Homo sapiens: one gene and its partners. The protein of the gene in region 1 purifies or fractionates together with the protein of each later gene. This does not show direct contact. Each region holds a gene or a part of one and is shown in the gene's direction. Other genes may lie near its edges. The genes, in order: CYB5B, CSE1L and FLVCR1.

Region 1 (4,146 bases):
TTGCATTCTTCCCCCTTGGAGCCAAGACGATTGGCCAGACATCACCTCAGATCTGAGACCAGCGTCTTCCATCTCTCAGAGCCTTACTCCCAAAGTACCTGCTCACTGTTCCGTGTTGAACAATTGCCGGTGTTTCCTCTCTTCACTGGTTTCCATGAGTACCCTTATATTTCACAACTTTCTGTTCATAAGTTATAGTGACATTGCTCTTTGGTAAAAATGCCTGCTTTCCAATACTTTGATTGCATATTAGACATTCTTAACAGGGCGGCAGTCTAGTGTTGAAAGTTTTATTTTTCCATTTTTCTTTTAAGTAAATTTTTTTTAAAAAATTCTGATTTAGGGCTAGGTGTGGTGGCTCAGGCCTGTAATCCTGGCACTTTGGGAGGCCAAGGTGGGAAGATCGCTTGAGGCCAAGAGTTCAAGACCAGCCTGGGCAACATAGCGAGACCCCTATCTGTATTAAAAAAAAATCTGATTTAATTCTTTTATTTATCATAAGGGGTTTAATTCCTGAAGTAAAGGTTTGCACCTATTAAACTTAAAACTGCCAAATGATTTTTGTTCTTTTATGTGCGTGATAAAAATACAAAGAATGGTGTGGCCACCTCCTCCCTTTCAAGCTAGGGCAGCAGGTAGCTCTTCCCAGCCCCTGAGCCCAGCCCCTTCCCAAGTGGTGCCGGACAAAAAACTACATGGCCCTTTCGTGTCTTGGGGGTGGAAAGGTAGGGATGAATTGGGGTGATAGAACCCTGGTGAATTCAGAGTAATCTTTCTTTAGAAAACTGGTGTTTTCTAAAGAAACAGGATAGGAGTTTAGAGAAGGCACCAAAGCTTTCACTTTGGTTTGGCACCAGTTTCTAACCATCTGTTTTTTCTACCCTAGCTATCTTTTATTGGTAAAATATAAATGTATAATTATGTTTGTAGAGCTTTACCAAGGAGTTTCCCTCCTTTTTTGTTTGTTGATTAGCAAATTTTTGATTCTCCATTTTCCAAAAGTAAGAGACTCCAGCATGGCCTTCTGTTTGCCCCGCAGTAAAGTAACTTCCATATAAAATGGTATTTGAAAGTGAGAGTTCATGACAACAGACCGTTTTCCATTTCATCTGTATTTTATCTCCGTGACTCCAACTTGTGGGTTTGTTCTGTTTTTCCATGAGAATAAAATACTGGCGGTTTTTTTCTCAGATGTGTGTTCATTGAGAAGTAGGTTACTAGAATTATGTTACTGTGTCTTATTGGTTCAATGATGATTTCTCTGGCATATTAGACTTTTATTTTTTCCCCCATGGAAGCACTTGAGGAAATAAATAGTACACTGGCTGTTTTCTGCCAGCAACTGTGGTGATTTTTCTCCCTGTCCTTTGAGAATTGCTAGTCTGCTTCTGAGCCATTGTCATATCCAGCAGGGAGCAGCTTGGTTCAAGAAGGACCATAGAGGCTGCTCAGCATCTCCTCCCTCCCTCCCAGCTTGCCAGGGATTTGATGAGACAGGAAACTGCCCAGCAAACCAGGGACTGCCCATGTAAACTATTTAAGAAAAAGTTCAACCCAGGTCTTGTATCCTGTGATTTAGCAGTTGAATGAATACAGAATTCATCAAAATAATATTAACCTTGTACTTGCACACTTGGATATATTTGGGAGTAATTTTAGGAGATTTCTGGCTGACTTTTATTATCAGGGATATGGGTTTAGTAAAGCTTTTATCTTTAGAAAAATGTTTGTATGCATTATAAGATGCTACTTTTAAGACAATATTGAAAAAAACTTTGGTTATTATTTAACAAAAGTGGTATGACTTGATGCTTCTCTATTTAAAGGCAAGGAAGGATTGGTATATGATTGCCTGTAATAAATAAATTGCGTGATTATTGGAGTACATTGGGGTAAAAGTAAAGAACAGAGGAGTATTGAGGAGCTTGAAAGGGAACATTCAAACTAAAGCCAAGCCTGAAGATAACTTGAATCAGTTGTAAAAGTGTGTTGGCAATGTCCGAAATTGAATGAAAAACATCTGGCTTATAAGAAATGTTAAAGAACTACCATCTTAAGTAAAATTGGTGTTTTTGTTATTTTTAAGGTAAATGCCAATGCAAAAGGTATGTTTTTCTACTTCACATTGGTTTTCTTTTCCTGTTTACATCTGCACTTGTTTTTTGCTGAGAGCCAGAGGAAAAGATAATTAGACTTTGTCTCTTCCACCCATGAAATCCCCCAGTACCCAGGGCTTCTTCTGAACTACTGCCGATGTGATGTCACTTTGTATCTGGAAAATCACTTTGGGGTCCATTTACTGTTATTTTGTTGCCTACAAAAACAGCCAGGTGAAAGCTAAATCTTGTGTGAGAGTTTGCAGAGGTTTTTCTATACAATAAAGTAGTATAGCACACTAGCCAAATCCATCCAAAAGGACCTTTTTTTTAGGAAGTAGACTTGAATTCACAAAACAGTCTTGACATGGGTAGCTGGTGAAAAACCCTCTGGAGAGCAAGTGGAGCCAGTCCCCATTGGCTGACAGTGCCACCTGGAGCTGGTCTCTGGGGTGTTCGGTTGTTTATTCCTGAGGAAGACTAGCTGCTGCTGCTGCTGCTGCTGCAAACTGTACTGTACACATCATGGCTGCTGGACACGAAGGAGGAGGTGAGAGAAGTTTCATGCTACCGAAATAGAGGGTGTTGGTACCACTGCCCCTGGCCTGAGAGCCAGGGTTTAAACCTGCCTCAGTAGAGTCTAGTTTGAAATGACACCAAAATTCCTCAGCCCCTACTCAGCAATTGGTTTTGGTTTCCAAATGACTTCTGCATTTGTAAAGATAACAGAGTGGTGGGGTCAAAGTTTATCTTGTGTTTAGATCTCTTCAAGACTGCTTAAGCAAAAACAAAAATCCCTTGGAACCTATCGTTTGAGCCTGTAAAGTTGTTTTAGCAGTTGTCATAAATGCATATGTTGTGAAATCAGAACACTGTCGAGTTTATACTCATTTAGCTGCAATGTGGGACAATGAAAAATGCTTTACAGGCCTGGAGTATCATTACTTATGGTATCTCCTGCTTTAAAATCTCAAGCGATATCTATCTGGTTAAATTCCATTTTAGGAGATTGAGATGCAGAACGTTAATGTTCATTACCTCCTCCTACCCCAAGAGAAATGGATTCAGACATGTCTTGTCTCAACAAGAAATTGATTTTTTTTTAAACTATCTTATTCTGTTGCCAAATATCACAGAAGTAATGAGGAGTTTAGTTACATTTGGCTGTTGTGCTCTGAAAGAGCCAGGTTTGGAATTTGTGGGGGTGATCTAGGAAGAAGGTTCCAAAGAAGCAGAGGCATTTGTCAAGTTACCTACCCTATATCCAGCATCCTCCTCATGAGCTTCAGTAGCTGCTCTTTGCCCACGCTTGTATCCTACGTTTGCTATTTGGGCAAACCATTACTTCAGTTATTTAACTTCCCTTTTTTTTTAACTTCACCTTTGACTATGAACAAGTAACGGTAACATTCCTTTTGTGTATTCAATAATGCAGTTAGTTTACCTTTTTCAGAATATTTTGAACAAAGATCTTTGTCTCTTTCTGCTGGAATGCGCACACAGTGAACGTTTGTTAGAACTACACACAATAAAGACACTGTTTTCCTTTTCTTGCCCCGACTACACTTATTATTTTTAATTTAAAAAGGTGTTTTTTAAGTAGAAGTGTTGGTTTTGTAATCCTCAGGTGTTCTGGAAGAAAAGGATTTCAGAAGCATGACAGTCTCCCGTGTCTGTGCTAATGGTGTGTTTAGCATAACGTGGTGGGGAGTTCCGTGGTTCTCCAGGATTCTCCTCACTGTTCTTTTCGTGAAGTGAATCGTTCATTTGATAATCGTGAAATGCAAAAAGCAAGGCTGTGTTTTAATGGCTGTGAAGTGGGAACGGGGTAGCCAGGTTTGAGGTTCTGTTTCCACTGAAAATACCTACTGACAGAGAAGCCAGTACCAGGTAATACTGTTTTGTTATCTGCAATGCCAGTCTTCAAATGATTGTTTTTCTTGGAAATAGCTAAACTGTTGGGGAAAATTAAACACTGAGATTGAAGTTTAGTGACTGTGTTAATAAAACAAGGGAAATAAACCGTTTTTATAATTACCTTTGAAACATA
Region 2 (11,933 bases), on another chromosome or scaffold:
CTTGGCCTCCCAAAGTGCTGGGATTACAGTCGTGATTCACCACGCCTGGCCTAGGTTTTAAATTTTTGTTTGTATAAATGACATCATACTATGGGTTTCATTTTTCTGTTTTTTGTTACTTGTTTGTTTTGAGACGGAGTCTTCGCTCTGTCGCTCAGTGCAGTAACACAATCAAGTCATGCAGTGGCACGATCTTGGCTCACTGCAAGCTTCACCTCCTGGGTTCATGCCATTCTCCTGCCTCAGCCTCGCGATAGCTGGGACTACAGGCTACCGCCACCATGCCCGGCTAATTTTTTTTGTATTTTTTAGTAGAGACGGGGTTTCACTGTGTTAGCCAGGATGGTCTCGATCTCCTGACGTTGTGATCCGCCCGCCTTGGCCTCCCAAAGTGCTGGGATTACAGGCATGAGCCACCGTGCCTGGCCTTTTCTGTTTTATTTTGAGAATGAGGTCTTGCTCTGTTGCCCAGGCTGGAGTGCAGTGGTGCGATCATAGCTTACTTCAGCCAGGAAATTCTGGACTCAAGCGATCCTCCTGCCTTAGCCTCCCTAGTTGATGGGATTACGGGCATGCTCCACCGTACCCACCTACATCATGACTGTTTGTCCTTAACATCTTTTTTTTTTTCTTTTTTCTTTTTTTTTTCTGAGATGGAGTCTTGCTCTGTTGCCCACGCTGGAGTGCAGTGGTGCAGTCTCAGCTCACTGCAACCTCCGCCTCCTGGGTTGAAGCCATTCTTCTGCCTCAGCCTCCCGAGTAGCTGGGACTACAGGCGCATGCCACCACGTCTGGCTAATTTTTTGTATTTTTAGTAGAGGTTTCACCATGTTAGCCAGGATGGTCTTGATCTCATGACCTCGTGATCTACCCACCTCGGCCTCCCAAAGTGCTGGGATTACAGGCGTGAGCCGCCACTGCGCCCGGCCTAACATCATTTTTGAGTTATTCATTTAGTGCCTAAAGCGATCCAGCTACCTCAGCCTCTCAAGTTGCTGGGACTACAGGAATTCACTACCATGCCCAGCTAATTTTTTATTTAATTTTTTCTTAATAGAGATGAGGTCTCACTATGTTGCCCAGGCTGGTCTTGAGCTCCTGGGCTTAAGCAATTGTTCTACCTTGGCTTCCTGAAGTATTGGGATTATAGACAGGAATGAACCACCACACCCAGGAGGCTTTTCTAGTTTAGACTAATGAATGTTTCAAATTTAGAGGTTTTTAATGAAGATTGTTCTCGTATTTGTTGCTTTTTGGGGGTGGGAAGAGAACAAAAAATGAGACACAAAAAGGTTAAATAACTTTTTCAAGAAATATCTGCTAGTGATGATTCTTAAGTTTGGTGAAATCTTAGTCTCCTTCTCTGTGATATTATTATTTTATGGTATGTTGATTTATCTGCAAGATGTTATCCTCATAGTTTTGTGCTCTGAAAAGGAGAATTTAGAAAGTGGAAATTGAACCATTATGTGCAAGTGAAAGTTTTGGTTTCTGGGCAGCAGCATCTCCTATTATAACAGAGCTTAAAAATAGCAAATTGTTCTTTAAATCAACAGGTCCTTCTCTTCCAATTGTCTTTTACTCAAATATGGAATCATTGCATTTAGAGCATGTATATTATTGTGTTTTTTAGGTGCCAAAAGAACATCTTTTAGTCTCGATTCCTCTCTTGATTAATCATCTTCAAGCTGAAAGTATTGTTGTTCATACTTACGCAGCTCATGCTCTTGAACGGCTCTTTACTATGCGAGGGCCTAACAATGCCACTCTGTGAGTATTTTATTCTAAAGTTTTTTAGCCTGGGGTAGGGGCTGTACTGTGCTGGTCAAAGATATCTGAATGTTTTCATAATTTCACTAGTGGGAAAACAAATGTCTGCTTTCTATTCCTTTATACTCTGTTTCATTCTAAAAGCATTTGAGGCTGCTTACTAAAATAGGTGCATTATGACAATACAATTTAATAAACTGGAGCCAAGGAAAGTAACTGAGATAAAGTTAATAAACAGAAATGTGTGTCAAAGGATCCTATATAGTAGTCCAAGAAACTCCAAATTTTATTTGGAGTCTCTTAGCAGCCAGGGCAAAGAGGGAAACTTGGGAAGTTAAAATTTTCACAGGGTCTATGAGATAAAAGTTAAAGCAGAGAATACTGTACAATAGTAGTAGTAGTGTTCTCAGCAACAATCATGTAACAGTTATTTTCATGTGGCTATTTGCGTAAGGTCACTTATTTCTGAGATATGACCTAACCGAATGAAAGTAATTCACTGGGGACCAAGAAAATAGGTCTTCTGGCCTGAACCAGGATGAAATGTAGAGGAATGGATGGTCTGCATGTCTTTCAGGCCACTATTCAACAGTATTATTTCTTGAAATGAGCTTTGGGTAAGAGATGGAAAACAGTTCTAGGTTCTTTCCTTCATCAAGAACTTGAAGTACAGATACTCTCAGTGGCCAATTAAGGGTAGAAAGGACATCCTTTGAGGTGAGTCAAGCCAGTACCTATCTTCAGGCCCAGAATTTATGCAGAAAACAGTTCTGAATCTTGGCTCCACCTCCAAAAACAAAATAAATGACAGAGTCCCCTGAGATTCTGAGTTCTTTCTCAGTGGTAATAGATATAAACCAGGGACAACTGTTTCAACTTCAGATGTTGTTGGGTTTAGCTGGCTTTTTGGTTCAGTTGTGTTTGGTTCTCGATGTGCCTTCTTAGGAGCCTAACATGAGCACATGTAAAAAAATTATTTTCCTAAACTGTCTATCAATTGTCAGTGGTGGGAGATGGCTCAGTTTTATGCTGAGAAGGGTGACATAGTGGTTGCCAAGGGTAATCTGCAGTGACAAGCTCAAGAGTTGGTAGTGACTGAAAGCTGTTTTTTCATCTATAGCTTTACAGCTGCAGAAATCGCACCGTTTGTTGAGATTCTGCTAACAAACCTTTTCAAAGCTCTCACACTTCCTGGCTCTTCAGAAAATGAATATATTATGAAAGGTAGGCTGTTTCCCTGGTGTGCAGACTACAGGTATCCAATCTCAGATTGTAAGGGTGAGCACTCTGAGTTATACTTCAGGTTATACAGTCTATGAACCAGATAATGTTTACCAAGTAGTAAGTTAGTTTAGATATTTCAAAATGAAAAACATTATCTTGTTTACTACTAACAATAATTTTTTTTTTTTTTTTTTTTTTTTTTTGAGATGGAGCCTTGCTCTGTTGCCCAGGCTGAAGTGCAGTGGCTTGATCTCAGCTCACTGCCACCTCTCCCTCCTGGGTTCAAGCGATTCTCCTGCCTCAGCCTCCCGAGTAACTGGGATTACAGGTGCACTCCACCATGCCCGGTTAATTTTTGTATTTTTAGTAGAGACAGGGTTTTGCCATATTGGCCAGGCTGGTCTCAAACTCCTGACCTCAAATATCTGCCCGCCTCAGCCTCCCAAAGTGCTGGGATTAGAGGCCACTGCACCTGGCCAACAGTAATCTTAATTTGATATGGAACTTCTCATTACAGAAAATGTAGCAAAGCCCTTTTTTCCTTCCCTAGATTGAGTTTCTTTAAGGCAAAGAAGAGATCATGCAACGTTTATTAACTGCATGCTCACCTAGGTAGGGGTGAAATGTGGGTGCCTGTGGTAGACTCTGCACAAATCGTGTCTTCTTACGTACTGCCAAGGACACAGGCAGCTGTATCCATCCACAGGCTGGTGTATCCATCCACCAGGCACTACATTAGTTGAGTGTCCTGGTGCCAGCTCTGAATTTAGAGATAGTCTCAGTGTTTTTCACTGTTGCATCCCAAAAGCCTAGCACATTGGGTTGTAGGAAGCACTTTTCAGAGAAACTCCCTGATCTTTTCAGTCTGGATCAGAAATCCTAGAGTGGATGTGTGTATCTGGGTGTATGTTTCCAACACTATCCTTCCCCCAACAATGATGTATAATTGTGTAATTATTGTTGTTTAATGTCCTTTTTTTTTTTTTTTTTTTTTTTGAGATGGAGTTTCACTCTTGTTGCCCAGGCTGGAGTGCAATGGCACAATCTCAGCTCACTGCAGCCTCACTCTCCTGGGTTCAAGCGATTCGCCTGCCTCAGCCTCCCGAGTAGCTAGGATTACAGGCGTGTGCTACCATGCCCAGCTAATTTTGTATTTTTAGTAGAGACAGGGTTTCTGCATGTTGGTCAGGCTGGTCTTGAACTCCCGACCTCAGGTGATCCACCCGCCTCAGCCTCCCAAAGTGCTGGGATTACAGGTGTGAGCCACTGCGCCCAGCCTTAATGTCCATTTCTATGAGAGCGGCTAACTAGTCTGTAATCTTCATTACTGTGTTTTTAGGGTATGTAAGAATACACAGTATGTAATACCTTCTCTGTACGGTTGTATGAGTGAATGAAATAATTCTGCGCCAGCCTAGTGGAGGAGCACCAATTTATCCTCTAGCCCTTTTAACCCAGGTCAGGGAAGGATTTTCTCTAGGAAGTGATCTCTAAGCTGAGATATGACCTAACCGAACGTTAGGTGTGAGGGATAGGTAGCAATCTGTTGAAGGGTGGATGAGTCTTTGACTCCAGTAGAGGAGGAAACATGATGTGCAGAGTTCAGGAGGCAAGAGCAGATAGCTTTCTGTCCTTTATGCTTGGCATGTATTTGGGGCTCTGCTTAGTAAACATTTATTTTAGAAATGTTATTTGTGGAAAGAGAGCTTTTATACATTTTTAGCTGACAAATTTATTTTTCTCCCATGCTTCCTATTTTTAACCCATTTATGGTCTTTTGAGCAATATTTTTGCAATTTGGACTCTGTGGCTTTACATGTATTTTTAGAATTTTTTTAGGCTCCTAATCTCTTTTTTTGAGGGAGGTGGATAGGCAGTTTTCTCTTCAGTTTCCTGTAGTTTGTGATCATGTTTCCTTTAGGCTAGGGCTAAACATTTTCTGATGCTGGTTTCTTTTTCTTTTTCTTTTTTTTTTTTTTTTTTGAGAGAGAGAGGGAGTCTCGCTCTGTCTCCCAGGCTGGAGTGCAGTGGCATGATCTTGGCTCACTGCAACCTCCACTTCCCAGGTTCAAGCGATTCTCAAGCCTCAGCCTCCCGAGTAGCTGGGACTACAGACGTGCACCACATACCTGGCTAATTTTGCTATTTTTAATGGAGATGGGTTTTGCCATGTTAGCCAGGTTGGTCTCAGACTCTAGCCTCAAGTGATCCGCCAGCCTCGGCCTCCCAAAGTGCTGGGGTTACAGGTGTGAGCCACCAAGCATGGCCTCTGCTACTGATTTCTAAGAGAAAGAGACCCCAAACAGTTCTCTCTCAGACTCACCTGCTCCATTCATGTCAGCTCACTGTTTCTTCCTCTTAGTCAACCTCTTTAATTATTTTTTAAACCTTGAGCCTTCTAGAAATACTCAGTATTTCCCAGCTAAATTTTGTTGCCAACCCGTCCTAATTTTAAAAGGAAGGGAAATTTAGATTATTTTTAAATGTAGAGAGCTATCTCGGGGTTGTCTAAGCATCTTAAAATTTAGTTGATGAATTAGTGCGCTTTTTTCCCCCCAGTCGCTCTCTTATTCTGAAGTTTAACTAAACTCTATTTGTTTTTGCTGTTTTTGTATTTTACAGCTATCATGAGAAGTTTTTCTCTCCTACAAGAAGCCATAATCCCCTACATCCCTACTCTCATCACTCAGCTTACACAGAAGCTATTAGCTGTTAGTAAGGTAATAGAGCCAATTTTGAAAGTGGGGTTCCTTTTTTATTTGCTCCAAACTGTTTGGGCCTCAGAACTCTTTGGCATTACGTGAAGCTTTAGAGAAGGTCTGTGAATTCTTCCTGACCAGCCACTAATGGACTTTTCTGAAAGTGTGGGCATGCTGTTAGATTGGAGACGTAATAGCAGTCACCTTTAAGTGTGTGCTAGAAGCTTGAATACATTTTCATTCTCATTACAAAAGTAACATGTTTATTGTAGAAAAAGAAAGTGCAGATGATCCAAAATTACCTTAAATGGAGTTAAGTAGGCTTTGCACTAAATGGATATAAAAGAGGCTGTCTGGACTTCTATGAAATGATGATTAAAATCCTTTGTGTTGTCTTTTCTTCCTTACTCTTATTTCTCAAAAGGAAAGTTCACTCTGATCAAAATTTTACAGATACTTAGATTCATGTTTATTAACACTAAATTTTAGAAAATAAATCCGTTTAAGGCTGACAGAATTCCTTTTTAGATGCTATTCTTGATCTTATGAGAATTAGATCAATTCATAGGAAGTGTTGGAGGGATTTTGGAGAACAGAGTGATTATTATTCAACTGAGTTAGGGCTAAGGGTCTTTGGACTACTTAGGGCCTTGAGGGATGGAGCGGGGAGGGAACCCAAGTCTCCGCCTCCCATATGTATTACCATCTCATGTTCTGATTGAGTTAGATTTGTATGCTAGTAGCCTTCCAAGAACTTGTTTAAAGAAAAATGGGGTTTTGTTGCTTAAAAAGAACATAAAAAACTACTCATTTGGGGGATTATCAGTAAGTAGACATAGACATTGAGGCCCACAGAAGTTAAGGCTAGTGGCATTACTAGGACTTAGTATTTCTTCTCTGCGAGGGCACGTGGGCTTAAGACAAGTTACAGCTCTGGGATCTGAGGTTTGTATAAGCAACTCTGTAACTCTGAAGTATTTTTTTCATGGTGGACTTTGGGCCATTTAAAAAAAAATTCAAATGAACAAGCACTAGGGTATAATTGGTGTTTTTTTCTTAATTTTGATTTTTAAAAAATAAGATGGCCTCTATTTTAAATGTGTTTTATAAAGGTTAGGTGTGGATTATTAGCATAATTAGGTTTTTTTTTTTTAATTTCAGAACCCAAGCAAACCTCACTTTAATCACTACATGTTTGAAGCAATATGTTTATCCATAAGAATAACTTGCAAAGCTAACCCTGCTGCTGTTGTAAATTTTGAGGAGGCTTTGTTTTTGGTGTTTACTGAAATCTTACAAAATGATGTGCAAGGTAAGTTAACGGAAATTATTTTCTTTGTAATGGAATAAAATTAACATGGCTATAAAATGCAGCCCACCTAAGCGATGTGGGCCTTTTGTGTCAGTCATTCCTTCTGAAGCTCACAGCTCTGTTTTTACTTTTATCAACAGAATTTATTCCATACGTCTTTCAAGTGATGTCTTTGCTTCTGGAAACACACAAAAATGACATCCCGTCTTCCTATATGGCCTTATTTCCTCATCTCCTTCAGCCAGTGCTTTGGGAAAGAACAGGAAATATTCCTGCTCTAGTGAGGCTTCTTCAAGCATTCTTAGAACGCGGTTCAAACACAATAGCAAGTGCTGCAGCTGACAAAATTGTGCGTCAGGTTTTGATATAACTGTAATTTTATAAAGTAGCTTGGAGAAACTGGGGATGGCAGATGTTTGAAATTTTTTTATTTAAAATAAATTTAAGGCTGGGGGCAGTGGCTCAAGCCCACCACTTTGGGAGCCTCTAGTGGGAGGATCCCTTGAGCCGAGGAGTTTAAGACCAGCCTAGGCAACGTGGTGAGATCTATCTCTACAAAGGAAAAAAAAGCTTTTTAATTAGTTGGACACAGTGGAGCATGCCTGTGGTCCCATCTACTTGGGAGGCTAAGGTGAGAGGGTCGCTTGAGCCCAGGAGTTTAAGGCTGCAGTGAGCCATGATCTCACCATTGCACTCCATCCTGGGCAACAGAGCTAGACCCTGTCTCTTAAAAAAAATAATAATAATAATAACGGAAATAATTAGTAGAAAATGTTATGGTATGTTTTATCAGAATTCTGTATCCTTTAGTTATTTATATCCATGATGGAAAATTTTAAAAACAGAGCCAAACAGGTTGATTTTAAGAACTTAACTTTGGTCGGGCGTGGTGGCTCACACCTGTAATCTCAGCACTTTGGGAGGCCGAGGTGGGCAGATCACCTGAGGTCAGGAGTTCAAGACCAGCCTGGCCAACATGGCGAAACCCCGTCTCTACTAAAAATAAAAATTAGGTGGGTGTGGTGGCACGTGCCTGTAATCCCAGCTACTCAGAAGGCTGAGGCAGGAGAATCGCTTGAACCTGGGAAGCAGAGGTTGCAGTGAGCCAAGATCGCCCCATTGCACTCTAGCCTGGGCAACAAGAGTGAAACTCCGTCTCAAAGAAAAAAAAAATTACTTTAATGGCTACGCGGGAGGAATTGTTCCCCATATGTTTCAGAAATAATTAAAGAGAAAAGGATAGATTATTACAGTATGAACTCTGTTTTAAGACATATATCATGTTTAACTTTTCGAATAATTATTCCTGTTAACCATTTTCTGTTGGATCTCATTTCTTAACAGCCTGGGTTACTAGGTGTCTTTCAGAAGCTGATTGCATCCAAAGCAAATGACCACCAAGGTTTTTATCTTCTAAACAGTATAATAGAGCACATGCCTCCGTGAGTATGACTAGAACTTTGTGCATTTATTTAGAAATTTTGTTAGGTGCTCAGAAAAGTCCTAAATTTATATTGTTGATTTTTTTTAATTCTTTAGTGAATCAGTTGACCAATATAGGAAACAAATCTTCATTCTGCTATTCCAGAGACTTCAGAATTCCAAAACAACCAAGTTTATCAAGAGTAAGTAAAATCATCTGGATGTTCTACAGAAGTAATGAAAGAAGGTAGCTAAAACCCTTAGACTTTATGGTTGCAGATACATTTTTTATCCGTTTTAAACTTTATGCAAAAAATACTTGGCCACGTGTGGAGGTTCATGCCTGTAATCGCAGCACTTTGGGTGGCCAAGGGAGGCCGATCGCTTGAGCTCAGGAGTTCAAGACCAGCCTGGGCAACATGGCGAAACCCTGTCCCTACGAAAAGTACAACAAAATTAGCCAGGCATGGTGGCATGTGCCTGTAGTCGCAGCTGCTTGGGAGGCTGAAGTAGGAGCATCACCTAAGTCCCAGAGGTTGAGGCTGCAGTGAGCCAAGATTACACCCACTGCACTCCATCCTAGGTGACAGAGTGAGACCCTGTCTCAAAAAAAAAAAAGAAAATATTGTAAGGGCCTGGTGCAGTGGCTCTCATCTGTAATCCCAGCACTTTGGGAGGTGAAAGTGGGAGTATTCCTTGAGTCCAGGAGTTAACGACCAGCCTGGGCAACATGGTAAGACCCTGTCTCTACAAAACAGCCAAGCATGGTGGTGTGTGCCTGTAGCCCCAGCTACTCAGGAGGCTGAGGTGGGAGGATCACTTGACCCTGGGAAGTTAAGGCTGCGTGAGCTGTGATCACGCTCCTGCACCCAGCCTAGGTGATAGAGTGAAACCTTCTCACAAGAAAAAAGAAAATATTTTAAGATGTTTGTGTTCTCCAAACATTAAGTTAGTGTTAGTCATATTGTGTTCCAGAGGTTGGTTTATGGTTGGATACCAAAACATTTTTTCAGTAGAGAGAATATTATAAGGAAATATAAATCAAAGAGAGACAGCATGTAAAGGTCTATGACAGAAAGACAAGTTTTCTATTTACTAGAAGGCAGGTATTGATGCCACAGCCTTTGGATGTTAATGATTAAGCATAGGTTTATTTTGCAGACTTATCAGTTACCAGTTTAGTGCGTGAGTTCTCTATGCTGATATTCTGCATCTTCTTTCAACAGGTTTTTTAGTCTTTATTAATTTGTATTGCATAAAATATGGGGCACTAGCACTACAAGAAATATTTGATGGTATACAACCAAAGTAAGTTTGTTTTTATTATTTTTTAAAGGAAGAAAATGTTTTGACTTTTTTTTTAGTACAAATCAGTATCTCTGTCTTATAGATGATGATGTGGTTCTTGGTATGGAGATAGTGTCTATGGTTTTCAAAATATTCTTAGGTATTGGGAGTAAAGAAAAAGTAATCCTGGCCCAGCATGGTGGCTCACGCCCGTAATCCCACACTCTGAGAGGCTGAGGAGGGCGGATTTAGCTCAGGAGTTTGAGACCAGCCTGGGCAATATAGTGAGACTCCATCTCAAAAAAAGAAAAAACACCCTGGAATCATTGTTCTAATCCTCTAGATTAGAGGACCATCTACTCTACACACTGGCATTCTCCACAGCCAGTGTTCTATATTATGTTAAATGGTCAGTGTTGTCTCCAGGAGCCTGCCTTATTAAAACTAACAGCAGAAAACACCACATGTTCTCACTCATAGGTGGGAATTGAACAATGAGAACACTTGGACACAGGGCGGGGAACATCACACTCTGGGGCCTGTCGTGGGATGGGGGGCAGGGGAAGGGAGGGCAGAGGGAGGGATAGCATTAGCAGAAATACCTAATGTAAATGACGAGTTAATGGGTGCAGTAAACCAACTTGGCACATGTATACATATGTAACAAACCTGCACGTTGTGCACATGTACCCTAGAACTTAAAGTATAATTAAAAAAAAAAACCAGAATTTTCCTTCCCCCTTTTTTAAAAAATCGTGCTAATCCATATCGTTCCAATTTTAGTATATGTGCTGCTAATGCAAACACAGCAGAATTTTTCAAATGAGAAATACTTAGGACCAATAAATTAACTTTGTTTTTGACTTATCTGGTATATATGCAAAGAATGTATTTAGGTGGCATTTCCCATTAGTAGGGAATAAAACAATTATAACGATAAGATAAAGAACAACTCTTAGGGAAAATTTCTTCGGGGACAGTTAGATCCCTGTACCTCAGTTATGTCTCAAAAATTCTACATTGACTAAAAAATGAATTACTCTGGAAAGGAGACCAGAAAACATGGCTTCCGGCAGTAGGGGATTTTGAGGAAATCTCATGCACTGCTAGTGGGAGCCTGAATTAGCCTGATCTTTCTAGAGAGCAAAATGTATGCACTTTTTATCCAGAGCATTAGAATTGCCATACCCTTTGAGCCATATTTCCACTTCAAAGAATTGGTTCTATTAACGCATAAACTGAGGATTTTGCATCATTTAGAATTACGGAAAACTTCACTTCTAGCATGTTTGCAACAACATAGAATGATTGGCCGAATTATTTTAAATAGCCATTAGCATTTATGTACCTGCAGGTATGTAAGCAAAGACAGTTGGGAAGCTTATAACCCAAAAATGTTAAAACTAGTTGTTTCTGGGTGGTGGGATGATTCCTTTTTTCCCTCCTTGCTCCTCTCTCTTTTTTTTTTTTTTTTCTTTTTTTTTTTTGAGACTGGCCAGGTGTAATTTTTAAAGAAAAAAGCAGAGAGGGCCAGGAATGGTGGCTCACGCCTGTAATCCTAGCACTTTGGGAGGCTGAGGCAGGTGGATCACCTGAGGTCAGGAGTTCGAGATCAGCCTGGCCAACACAATGAAACCCCATCTCTACTAAAAATACAAAAATTTGCCGGGCGTGGTGGTGGGCACCTGTAATCCCACCTACTCAGGGGGCTGAGGCAGGCAAATTGCTTGAACCCAGGAGGTGGAGGTTGTAGTGAGCTGAGATCACACCGTTCCACTCCAGCCTGGGCAACAAGAGCGAAACTCCGTCTCAAAAAAAAAAAGAAAAGAAAAAGATTATGGCATTTGGCTACAGGGTAGAGGTGTGATGGGGTTTTTTTATGTTTTGACTTTCAGTCTCTTCAGATGATCAAAAACAGCAGTCTTGTTATTTAGTAATTTATCATATTCATAAGAAGTAACTAACATCTAAGCATTTTACTATTTCATTATAGTGATAATCTAATATTAAGTTGATTTATTTTGCTTTAATAGAATGTTTGGAATGGTTTTGGAAAAAATTATTATTCCTGAAATTCAGAAGGTATCTGGAAATGTAGAGAAAAAGATCTGTGCGGTTGGCATAACCAAATTACTAACAGAATGTCCCCCAATGATGGACACTGAGTATACCAAACTGTGGTAAGTACTTCATTTTAATATTTTTGTAAGTTACAGCTT
Region 3 (11,933 bases), on another chromosome or scaffold:
GTTTTGCCATGTTGCCCAGGCTGGTCTCAAACTCCTGACCTCATGTGATCCATCCACCTTGGCCTCCCAAAGTGCTGGGATTACAGGCATGAGCCACCACACCCGGCCAAATTTTTTTTTTTTGAGGTTGCACTATTTGGAGAAAAGATGATTCCTTACTATCCCAACTGTTGCTGTTTGCTCTCTGAAACTTAGATACCATACTCTAGGTTCAGATAACATAGTATTTTTTTTTTTTGGCTGTTATAATTCTTCATCCAAATTTTTGCTATCCTTATTTCAGTATGTATTAGATTCAAAATCACCATAGGGTGCAGTGCAGTAGAGTACACTCAGGCCTGAGCACAGGCCTCATTTGTTATCCTCATCTTCCGCAGGCTAACCCAGCGTGGTCCACGTGCATTCTTGAGCTCAGTGGGAAGTTGAATAACAAAGGCCAGTTACCCAGGTGTTTTTGATAAGTGTTGTTAACAAGTTTTTAGACGAGCTATAGGTCTCATCCTTTAATCGCCAGTTTAAACAGGGATTGTAATGGAACAAACCAACTGTAAAAATTCCTGTGAGTGAAGTAAGGGCCAAGAACAGCAAAGATAATTTTGATGAAGAACATGGTGAGGGACTCATTCTTAGTTATCAAAATTTATAAATCTATGGTAATTAAGATGCCATGAGTAAGGGATAGACATCAGATCACTGGAACAGAATAGAGAGCCCAGAGACCTACCTTGGGTGTCACTTGACCTAGGCTAGCTTATATTAATCCTGCTGGCCAGGTGCAGTGGCACATGCCTGTAATTCCAGCACTTTGGTAGGACAAGGCAGGCAGATCACCTGAGGTCAGGAATTCAAGACCAGTGTGGCCAACATGGTGAAACCCGGTCTCTAATAAAAATACAAAAATTAGCCAGGTGTGTTGGTGGGCACCTGTAATCCCAGCTACTCAGGAGGCTGAGGCAGGAGAATCACTTGAGCCTGGCAGATGGAGGTTGCAGTGAGCCGAAACTGCTATTTCACTCCATCCTGAGCAACAGAGTGAGACTCTTTATTAAAAAAAAAAAAAAAAAAGAAGTCCTGCTAAAAAACTTCAGTGGCCTGAAACATGAAAAGTTTATTTCTTGCTAAAACTGCATGTCCAGTGTGAATTGACAGCTAGTTTCTGCTCATCAAAGTTACTCAAGGATACAGCCTGACATCTCTGTAAATGCTTCCATGATTACTAAGGCAGAAAACAGGGAATGTCACCTTTGCTTATATTTAAAGTCATGTTGCCATGCCTAGAAAAATAAAAACTAGAATATTTGCAAACTGCTCTAATAACTAGTACATTATACATATAGGAAAACTTGAGGTTTTGCAGAAGAGGAACTGTTTGGTAAATTGTCCCAGGATAATTGATTGTCCATATGGGAAAAATAAACTAAAATTAGAACTCTACATCATACCATGCATAAAAATGAATTATAGTAGAGACCAAAGAGTAAAAATAAGAACTTTAAAGTTTTAGGAACAAATATAGGAGACCATCTTTAGTATTCCCAAAGAATTTCTTTGTCTTTTTTTTTTTTTTTTTTGAGACAGAGTCTCACTCTGTCGAATTTCTTTTTTTTTGAGACAGAGTCTCGCTCTGTCACCCAGGCTGGAGTGCAGTGGCACAATCTCGGCTCACTGCAACCTCCACCTCCCGGATTCAAGCAATTCTCCTGCCTCAACCTCCCCAGTAGCTGGGACTACAGGCGCACACCACTGCGCCTGGCTAATTTTTGTATTTTTAGTAGAGACGGGGTTTCACCATGTTGGCCAGACTGGTCACGAACTCCTTGGCCAGACTGGTGTCGAACTCCTGACCTCGTGATCCACCTGCCTCAGCCTCCCAAAGTGTTGGGATTACACGCGTGAGCCACTGCGCCCAGCCAAGAATTTCTTAATGCAAAAAACATAAACCCTAAAGAAGTATATTGATAAATATGATTATATTAAAATAATCTTTTCTAGGAAGACATTATTGAAAAAGGGAAAAGACAGGACTTAGACTATGAGAAAATTGTCTGCAATGCATATAACCAACAAAGGATTAGTATTAGTTAAAAATAACTCCTACAAATCAGAAAGAGCAAACAATCCAAGGACACCAGAAGACATTTGTGTGTCTGTGTCTGTGTGTATTGTTCTTATGTGATATTCAGCCTTAACAGTAATCAAGGAAATACAAATCAAAGCCAGAGTAAGATGTAATATCACACACATTCACATTGGCAAAATAATTTAAAATCTGGTGAAAACAAATTTGGCAAGGATGTGGAGCAGTAGGAACTCTGCTGGTAGTATGAACGGATAACAACTACTTTGAAGAGCAAATTGCTTATATCTAGAAAGTAGAAGGTCTACTCTAGATATATACTTAGAGAAGCTCTTATGTATAAGAACAAAAACATAATACTCATTGCAGTCTTGTTTTAAACAGTGAAAAACTAAAAAAGAAACCCTTAAGTGTCTATTGACAGGACGAGATAATTAAATTGAAGTATATTAACATAATAGAATACTGTACAACAGAAAACTAATGAACTACAACAAAAAATATCAACATGGATACATCTCAAAACCATCTCAATATAGTGTAACAAGAGCAAGTTGCAGATGGATACAAATAATATTTATATACTTACAGAATACTTCTAATTGTTTATGAATATGCATATATGGTAATATATAAAATGATAAGCACCAAGCTCAAGCTAGGGCTTGACTTTGGTAAAGAATAGGATTGGGAAAAGTCTGAAAAATGAATCTGAAGCAAAGATGGAAAAATGTTAATGTTTGCCAAATCCGGGTGATATATGAGGATATTTGTTGTATTCTCTATGCTATTTTATATTCTTAAAATATTTAATAATAGATAAATAATAAACTTAAGTTTTAGCTTAATTTAGGTTAAGAGTCTTACCTAAATTCATACAATACATGCTAGGAGACATCAGGATTCAAACCTATCCTGTGCTTCTCATAGCCAGTTGTTTTTATTGTTCACTTCTAAAGTATCCTTTGGGAGGCGAGGCAGTAGAATTGCTTGAACCCAGGAGACGGAGGTTGTAGTGAGCTGAGATTGCACCACTACTCTCCAGCCTGGGCAACAGAGCAAGGCTCCATCTCAAAAAAAAAAGTATTAACTGATTTTGTCTTATGAATTTTCAGTAAGTCTTTGATACAAAAAGGTAAGATCTCTGAAGCACAGTTTCTGTTAGGCTTTGCACATTTGTTGGCTGTAGTAGTACATTGTAGGAATTCAGTAAACAATCCATTGCTTGACTGGTTGCCATATATGTGTTGCATGTGGGGGTATGATTTATGGTCAGTATATCTCAATCTAAATAATAATAGTATTAGGACAGAGTTCTGCTATTACATCTTTAGTACAGTTAGGTGTTAAATTCATTAGTCCAGGTTCTGAAAGGGAATGACAATGGTTTTTAATTTCCTTTATCAACTGTGTTAAGAAATGTATTTCCACAATTGTCACATAATATTCCATGTCACTTCATGAACTGGTAAATGACACACTTTTAGTATTCTCTTTATTATTGTAGGTATCATGACTTAATATCATCTTTATTTATTATTGTAGGTATCATGACTGGTGCCTTTTATTCAGTCTCAACGTTATTAAATCAAATGATATTGACATATTATGAGGTAAGCTTCTGCTTATATCAGATTGCATGCCTGGCCAAAAATTTTTCTTTAGCAATATAATTGTCGTTAGCAGGGTCATGAGATTAAGGGTTATGACATTGTTGCTATCAAATATTTACATTTGTTTTAATTGAGAATATATTTGTTAAAAAATGAAATTTCCACAACTTTATATATCTAATTGGCTTTTATTATCAATTCGTTTATTGGACAGCATCCCATCTAAAGATTTAGAAAGGTACTGATGAGCTGAGCAGAGGAGATGGGCTTTATAGGCAGAAAAAGGCTGAAGAAAGCAGAAACAAGGAACAAAGAGCAGATTGGTTGCTACAAAGTTACTTTCCTTATAGGAGTAAAACAAAGGGGACTGGGCCCCATCTGATAGGTTGCTATGAATCTCCTTTTTTTTTTTTTTTTGGAAAAGTGGCCCATTTTAAAGTTCAGTTTGATTATGTGACACCTAGCACTAGTGACACCATTCTATGTGGTCTGGTCTGTTGGGCCTACTGTGGGAGCTCACTCCAAAACAATGGCCTCCCATCATTTTAATTTAACATATTTAATCCAGTTTATAAAGCACATAGTATGGCCAGGCATAGTGGCTCACGCCTGTAATCCCAGCACTTTGGAAGGCCGAGGCGGGTGGATCACCTGAGGTCGAGACCAGCCTGACCGACATGGAGAAACCCTGTCTCTACCAAAAATACAAAATTAGCTGGGCATGGTGGCGCATGCCTGTAATTCCAGCTATTCGGGAGGCTGAGGCAGGAGAAACACTTGAGCCTGGGAGGTGGAGGTGGCGGTGAGCCGAGATCGTGCCATTGTATTCCATCCTGGGCAATAAGAGTGAATCCCCATTTAAAAAAAAAACAGGCTGGGCGCCGTGGCTCACACCTGTAATCCCAGCCAAGATAGCGCCACTGTACTCCAGCCTAGTGACAGAGTGAGACTCCATCTCAAAAAAACGAAACAAAACAAAATACACACACACACAATATGGAAAGCAGAAGTTACTATCCCTGTGACAATACCTAAGTTTATTTTTAGGAAATAATATGATTGGTTATATGGAAAAAGACAAAACATTTTAAGGGAACTCAGCATAAATATAGATAAATAAATATCAAGTTTTGATTGACGTATCTGCTTTTGAAAGGATAAAGCAGTTGTACTATGTAAAAGCTATCGATTAACCTCCTTTTCAGATATCTATACAGTGTCATACCTTGCTTAGTGACAGGAATACCTTCTGAGAAATTCGCTAGGCAATTTCATTGTTGTGTGAATATCATAGAGTGTACTTACGCAAACCTGATGGTAGAGCCTGCTACATACCTAGGCTACGTGGTATAGCCTATTGCTCCTAGGCTACAAACCTGTATAACATGTTATGCTACTGAATGTTGTAGGCAGTTGTAATACAATGGTAAGTATTGTGTATCTAAATATATCTAAACAGAGAAGGTAGAATAAAAATACAGTATTATAATCTTACAGGATCATACTGTATATATGATTCAGAGTTGACCTAAATGTAATTATGGAGCACATGACTATCTATACTTAAGAATCCTAACAAAAATCATTGTACTTCTAACCATAGAGGATTAAGGAAAATTTACCTTTTTTATTTCTTCTATTATTTTAGGCTTTTTTTCTGGTTTTAAAATATAATGCTTTTATATATTCTTTACCTGCCCTCCCCTCCCACACTGACACATGTACTAAATCTTCCTACTGTGTGCTTAGTTTTATCTAATTATTTTCATTGACTATGAAAAGGTGTGGGAATGTGAAGAGTCTGAATTAGTTAATCCATTTATTTGATCAACTTCTTACGCAAATTTTTTTCAGGGAGAAGAAGTCAATGCTGGAAGGATTGGGCTAACGCTAGTAGTAGCTGGAATGGTGGGCTCTATTCTTTGTGGCTTATGGCTGGATTATACTAAAACATACAAGTAAGTGAAAGTAAATACATGTATGGTGTATAACCAAAGGTATTTTGATTTTAAAGGACAATTTGCTTTTTATTTCAAGAAATTTAAAACATGTTATTACTTAAAGATACGGATTCTAAACACTAGTAGGTTCTCTTCACTTAACAAGTGTTTCTTTTTTTTTTTTTTTTTTGAGACGGAGTCTCGTTCTGTCGCCCAGGCTAGAGTGCAGTGGCGCAATCTCGGCTCACTGCAACCTCTGTCTCCCGGCTTCACGCCATTTTCCTGCCTCAGCCTCCCGAGTAGCTGGGACTACAGGCACCCGCCACCATGTCCGGCTAATTTTTTTATATTTTTAGTAGAGACGGGGTTTCACCTTGTTAGCCAGGATGGTCTCGATCTCCTGACCTTGTGATCCACCCGCCTCGACCTCCCAAAGTGCTGGGATTACAGGCGTGAGCCACCGCGCCCAGCAACAAGTGTTTCAATACTCTATGTATTGTATTATTTTATTGGTCACATTTATTTCAATTCTGAGAACTTGGATACCTTATGAGCCCCTTCTTTCTAACAGTACTCATACCTACCACTTCCGAAGGAATTATTTCTATTCTAAAAAGAGCCATTTCTGAGAAATATTTGACTTTTGATAGACTTTATCTTGTTCTTTTTTTTTTTTTTTTTTAGGTGGGGTCTCACTCTGTCACCCAGGCTGGAGTGCAGTGGCACCATCTTGGCTCACTGCAACTTCTGCTTTCCAGGCTCAAGTGATTCTCCCACCTCAGCCTCCTGAGTAGCTGTGACCACAGGTGTGCGCCACCACACCCGGCTAATTTTTTGACTTTTTGATAGAGACAGTGTTTCACCATGTTGCCCAGGCTGATTTTGAACTCCTGAGGTCAGGCAATCTGCCCACCTCAGCCTCCCAAAGTGCTGGGATTACAGGCATGAGCCACTGCACCTGGCCTATGTTGTTCTTTTTTTATGTTGTGGGCTTAAATACAAAAACAAAAAAGTAGTTCTTTCCAATCAAAAAATTATTGTTGAGCATAAGGCTTTATTTTGGTAAGAACTTTTTGGCTAAAGTACGCCCAGACTACAGTACCACTTAACTGTAATATAATGCATAATGTGAAAATGCTGGTTTGACACAATGTCTTATGCCTGTAATCCCAGCATTTTGGGAGGCCAAGGCGGGTAGATTGCTTGAGGCCAGGAGTTCGAGACCAGCTTGGGCAACATGGTGAAACGCCATCTCTACTGAAAATACAAAAAATAGTCAAGTGTGGTGGTGGGCACCTGTAATCCCAGCTACTCAGGAGGCTAAGGAAGGAGAATTGCTTGAACCCAGGAGGCAGAGGTTGCAGCGAGCTGAGATAGCGTGCCACTGGTCTCCAGCCTGGGTGACAGAGCAAGACGCTGTCTAAAAAAATAAAAAAAAAAGAATATACTCTGTTAATTGTACATTATATGGAACCACCAAAAGGCTAATACCAAAGAAAATGAATGATACCAACTGGGAGACTAAGAAAGGGGTTTCAGAGGCAGCATATTTTGCTCTGGGAGTGAAAAGAATCACCACATTTTGTAACATGCCAAAACTTACCCCTGTACTTGGAAATGAATGAATGAAACTATTAAGGAATAAATGAATGAAATATGGAACTGTGTCCCGTGTACCTTTCAAGGCTCAAGATATATTTGATATTATTAGTCTAAACGCTACCAAAAGTATCTCTAATCTTGAAATTCTCCATATTCTTCCATAATTTAAGACAGCACTTGCCTTAGCTTCATTATTTTAAAATGATAGCTTAGAGTGAAACCTACTTGATATATAGATGAAGGGAGCATATGTAAAGGATTATATTTCTTAAGTCTTTCATCCGTTATACATTTAGAAAACTTGATAGGCATAGATGTGTGTTCTTTGCCACTGTGGCTTCCTTCTCAGGGTAACTGCCATTCATTCACCAAACTCCTGTTGTGTGCATCTTTCTTAGATGAAAATTATGGCTGGCATTATGTGATCCCTGTTCTTAAGATGTTTGTGGTCTAAATGGAGCAAATAAGGCATTCACATGTGAAAAGTTAAATAATATAACAAACTAAAATAGATGTCATAAGTTTTATAGTGCCAGTATGATAAGGGAATTTGGAAGAAAGAGAGACTCTTATAAACTGGTGTCGTTACAGAAGGCATTTGGAAGAGGTAGAATTTGATCTGAATCTTGAAATGTGAATAGGGAACTATCCCATTTGGTGGCATAAAAATGATTTTATTCCTATAAAAGGATCCTATCTGAGCATTCGATATGGTGTGGTTTTCTGGTGCTGCTGAATCTTAAATTAAAAATGCTTTAAAATTTGTGCTTTGGTGGATACATATTTCCATGGACAAGAAGGGGTGAACTTTGAAAAACAAAGATTCATTACTGAACAGGTAAGAGTGATGATTTTTGTATTCCTAGGAGAATCAGACAAAATACTAACAGCTTTGTTGTTTTTGTTTTAGACAGACTACTCTGATAGTTTATATTTTGTCTTTTATTGGAATGGTTATCTTTACTTTCACATTGGACCTTAGATATATTATCATCGTGTTTGTTACTGGAGGGGTGCTTGGGTAAGTATCAGATGTGTTTAGGAGGAATGATAGCATGCTGTTATAATTCTGAAGTATTATTACTCTGGTCTTTAATTTTTTCAGTTCATCCAAAGTTTCTTCAATATTTTAAACTTTAAAGGATTCATTCTATGCATATAAACATGTAATTCTTAAGAACTATTAAAAATTATTTAAAATTGGTTTTTGGTATACCATAGGTAAAAAATGGATGAGCCTTACTTAATCTGTGTAACTTTATTTGGTTACAATCAACTTATAAAACTAGAAGTAAATTTTTCTCAGAAAAAAATGTGTATTTGTTGCTTCCAGTTCTGTAACCTTGAGCTGATTGGTCAATGATAATAGTTCCTTACTTTGACATAGCAACTTCAAAATATTCACTTATTTGGTCATTAGAATAAGCCCGAGAGGCAGAATGATTGCATCAGTATGTGATTGTGACTTTCTGGTAGTTCTTTCTGTAATTCTGGATTTATTTTCCTAGCTTCTTCATGACTGGTTACCTCCCTTTGGGTTTTGAATTTGCTGTTGAAATCACTTACCCTGAATCTGAAGGTACTTCATCTGGTCTTCTTAATGCTTCTGCACAGGTAAACCTCTGATTTCTCTAAACCTGAGATGATTATTATACCAGATATTCTAGTGAGTAATGAGTTTGACCATGGTTTTATTTGTTGTTGTTGTTGTTTTGTTTTTTGGAGACAGAGTCTTGCTCAGCCATCCAAGCTGGAGTGCAGTAGTGCAGTCATGGCTAACTATAGCCTCAAACTCCTAGGCTCAAGCAATCCTCCCCCCTCTGCCTCCAGAGTTTTTGGGACTGCAGGTGCACACCAGCATGCCCAGCTAAATTTTTTTTGTTATTTTTTGTAGAGATGGTGTTTTGCCATGTTGTCCAGGCTGGTCTCGGACTCCTGGGCTCAAGCAATTCGCCTACCTCAACTCCCAAAGTGCTAGGATTACAGTGGGTGTGAGCCACTGCACCCAGCCTGACCGTGGTTTTTGTTTTAACAATTCAACTTTTCAATGAATGTTTCTAGAAACCAAATCATATAACCAAAATAAGAAAAGTTCTGGTGAAAACTTTATACTTGCTTTAAATAATTTAACTTAATAACGAATGATTTTTCTTATTGTATTTTAGATATTTGGAATTTTGTTCACATTGGCTCAAGGAAAGCTCACATCAGACTATGGTCCTAAGGCAGGGAACATTTTTCTCTGTGTCTGGATGTTTATAGGCATCATATTAACAGGTAAATTAGGGCGTTTGCCTGGCAAAAGGACTTGTGTCATGTGTTAATTTTCATATATATTGCTTCTCAATAGCTTGACAGAACTCAAGGGGAAAAAAATGAGATAAAAAGCAGGACATTATTTGTTTTCTTCTAAAGACATGAATCTCTTACTTCATTTTGCAGATTTCAAATTCAATACAGTTACTCTGCATAGCAAGCAAAACTGTTATAATAAGAGTAGTAAAGGCTGGGTGTGTTGGCTCATGCCTGTAATCCCAGCACTTTGGGAGGCAGAGGCGGGCAGATTACTTGAGGTGAGGAGTTTGAGACCAGCCTAGCCAACATGGCGAAACCCCGTCTCTACTAAAATTAGCCAGTTGTGGTGGCGCACACGTGTAGCCCCAGCTACTTGGGAGGCTGAGGCAGGAAAATTGCTTGAACCCAGGAGACAGAGGTTGCAGTGAGCCAAGATCACACGAGTGCACTCTAGCTTGGGCAACAGCGAGACTCTGTCTCAAAAAAAAAAAAAAAAAAGAGTAGTAAAGACCTGGAGTTGGGAAGACCTGGCCTCAAATTCCGATTCTGTTGCTCAGTGGGAGTGTGACTTTAGACCCGTTGCTTAACCTCTCAAATCCTCCTTTCCTTATTTATATAATAGAGTGTTAAAGCCTGCTTTATAGGGTTACTGTGAGGATTAATTGAAATGGTTCATGAAAAGTTCCTAGTGTCTGGCACCTGGGACGTGCCTAACATGTGTTACTATTGTTATAATGTGGTAGAGATGGTAAGCAGTCAAGTGGTAGTGGTGGAAATAGTATGTGGAATCCTTAGCTAGTGCTTATACTTCTTAGGTATAGTCATCATAGACATGGGCAGGAAAGAAAATAGTGCTCAATCTCCAGAGAAAGAGAATGTCAGAGAATTTTTATCCATAGTTTGCCCATGCACATGGGTGTACAATAGATTTGGAAGCAGAACTTTTTCCAGGTGCATACTTTTAAAATGTCATCATTCCCTAAACATTATAGTATAACAGCTATTTACATTGTATTAGGTATTAGTAATCTAGAGATGGTTTAAGTACATAGGAGGATGTGTGTACGTTATATGTAAATACTTCCCAGGGGCGTCCAATCTTTTGGCTTCTCTGGACCACATTGGAACAAGAAATATCTTGGGCCACACATGAAATACTCTAATACTAATGATAGCTAATGAGCTAAAAAAAAAAAATTGCAAAAAATCTCATAATGTTTTTTAAAAATTTGTGAGTTTGTGTTAGGCCACATTCAAAACTGTCCTGGGCCACATATGGGCTGCAGACCACAGGTTGAACAAGCTTATACTACACCATTTCATATAAAGGCCTTGAGCATTCGTGGATTTTGGTATCTGAGGTGGGGTCTTGGAATCAATCCCCCGCAGATACCAAGGGAGGTTGTGCTTCGTTGATCTGGTTATAACTTAGTTGGAGGATCTGGTTATAACTTAGTTGGAGAATCTATCAGAAGGATGTGAATCAGAATTTCTTCTACTGTTTGTGGAATACCTGATCATTCTTTGTGAAACCTTCAATATGAAATCTCACCAGTGATAGACATTTTGGATATACACAACTACCTAAGGTCGCTCACTCAATTGTATGAATGATAGGAACCTGAGCATTCATTCACGAAGCTAAAAGAAAGTGAATGCACTCTGTTTCCTCAAAGAAAAACATCTTATCACAGGGAGTTTTTCCCCCTGTCCAGTTAGTAAAATAAAACATACAAAACTGTGAAATATGTAATACATTAACTGCTTTAACTATTGTTCTTTCATAAGTAATTCCATGTTGGTTCTTAATTCCTAGGCAAGTACTATATCTTATCTAAGATTATTACTATTGGCTGGACGTGGTGGCTCATACTTGTATTCCTAGCACTTTGGGAGGCTGATACAGGTGGATCATTTGATGTCAGGAGTTCAAGACCAGCCTGACCAACATAGTGAAACCGTGTCTCTACTAAAAATACAAAAAACTTTAGCCAGTTTTATGGGCACACACCTGTAATCTCAGCTACTTGGGAGGCTGAGGCAGAAGAATTGCTTGAATCTGGGAGGCTGAGGCAGAAGAATTGCTTGAATCCGGGAGGCGGAGGTTGCAGTGAGTGGTGAAGATCACACCACCACTCCAGCCTGGGTGACAAAGTGAGACTCCGTCTCAAAAAAAAAAACAGTATTATTGTTATACCAAAGAAGGGAGCAGTTTTGTAATCCTCCTTCAAATTACTTTTACAAGAGATTCATGAATACTAATTCAAACAAATCAAGTCTAGAAAATTAAGAAGTGAAAATAGATCTTTAAAATTAGTTTTACATTGATGCTTTTACCATCTCAAATGGTATTCCCTGAGGCACAACAATATTGAAATCAGGGCCCTGATTAATACCCCCAAATTA

Evidence for each region.
Region 2: the proteins of CYB5B (region 1) and CSE1L purify together in Homo sapiens (affinity purification with mass spectrometry; 2 studies listed by BioGRID and IntAct, with this or other methods). This does not show direct contact.
Region 3: the proteins of CYB5B (region 1) and FLVCR1 purify together in Homo sapiens (affinity purification with mass spectrometry; 2 studies listed by BioGRID and IntAct, with this or other methods). This does not show direct contact.

What each region holds. Positions count from the first base shown.
Region 1 is NC_000016.10:69,462,619-69,466,764, forward strand, and holds the end of CYB5B (cytochrome b5 type B), read left to right. Parts: 3' UTR 1-3,646; downstream 3,647-4,146. UniProt on the Homo sapiens protein: Cytochrome b5 is a membrane-bound hemoprotein functioning as an electron carrier for several membrane-bound oxygenases.
Region 2 is NC_000020.11:49,082,393-49,094,325, forward strand, and holds part of CSE1L (exportin-2), read left to right. Parts: intron 1-1,633; coding exon 1,634-1,770; intron 1,771-2,890; coding exon 2,891-2,994; intron 2,995-5,616; coding exon 5,617-5,714; intron 5,715-6,854; coding exon 6,855-7,005; intron 7,006-7,145; coding exon 7,146-7,354; intron 7,355-8,349; coding exon 8,350-8,447; intron 8,448-8,544; coding exon 8,545-8,630; intron 8,631-9,653; coding exon 9,654-9,735; intron 9,736-11,747; coding exon 11,748-11,894; intron 11,895-11,933. UniProt on the Homo sapiens protein: Export receptor for importin-alpha. Mediates importin-alpha re-export from the nucleus to the cytoplasm after import substrates (cargos) have been released into the nucleoplasm.
Region 3 is NC_000001.11:212,879,749-212,891,681, forward strand, and holds part of FLVCR1 (choline/ethanolamine transporter FLVCR1), read left to right. Parts: intron 1-3,622; coding exon 3,623-3,690; intron 3,691-5,544; coding exon 5,545-5,648; intron 5,649-8,142; coding exon 8,143-8,253; intron 8,254-8,740; coding exon 8,741-8,846; intron 8,847-9,397; coding exon 9,398-9,509; intron 9,510-11,933.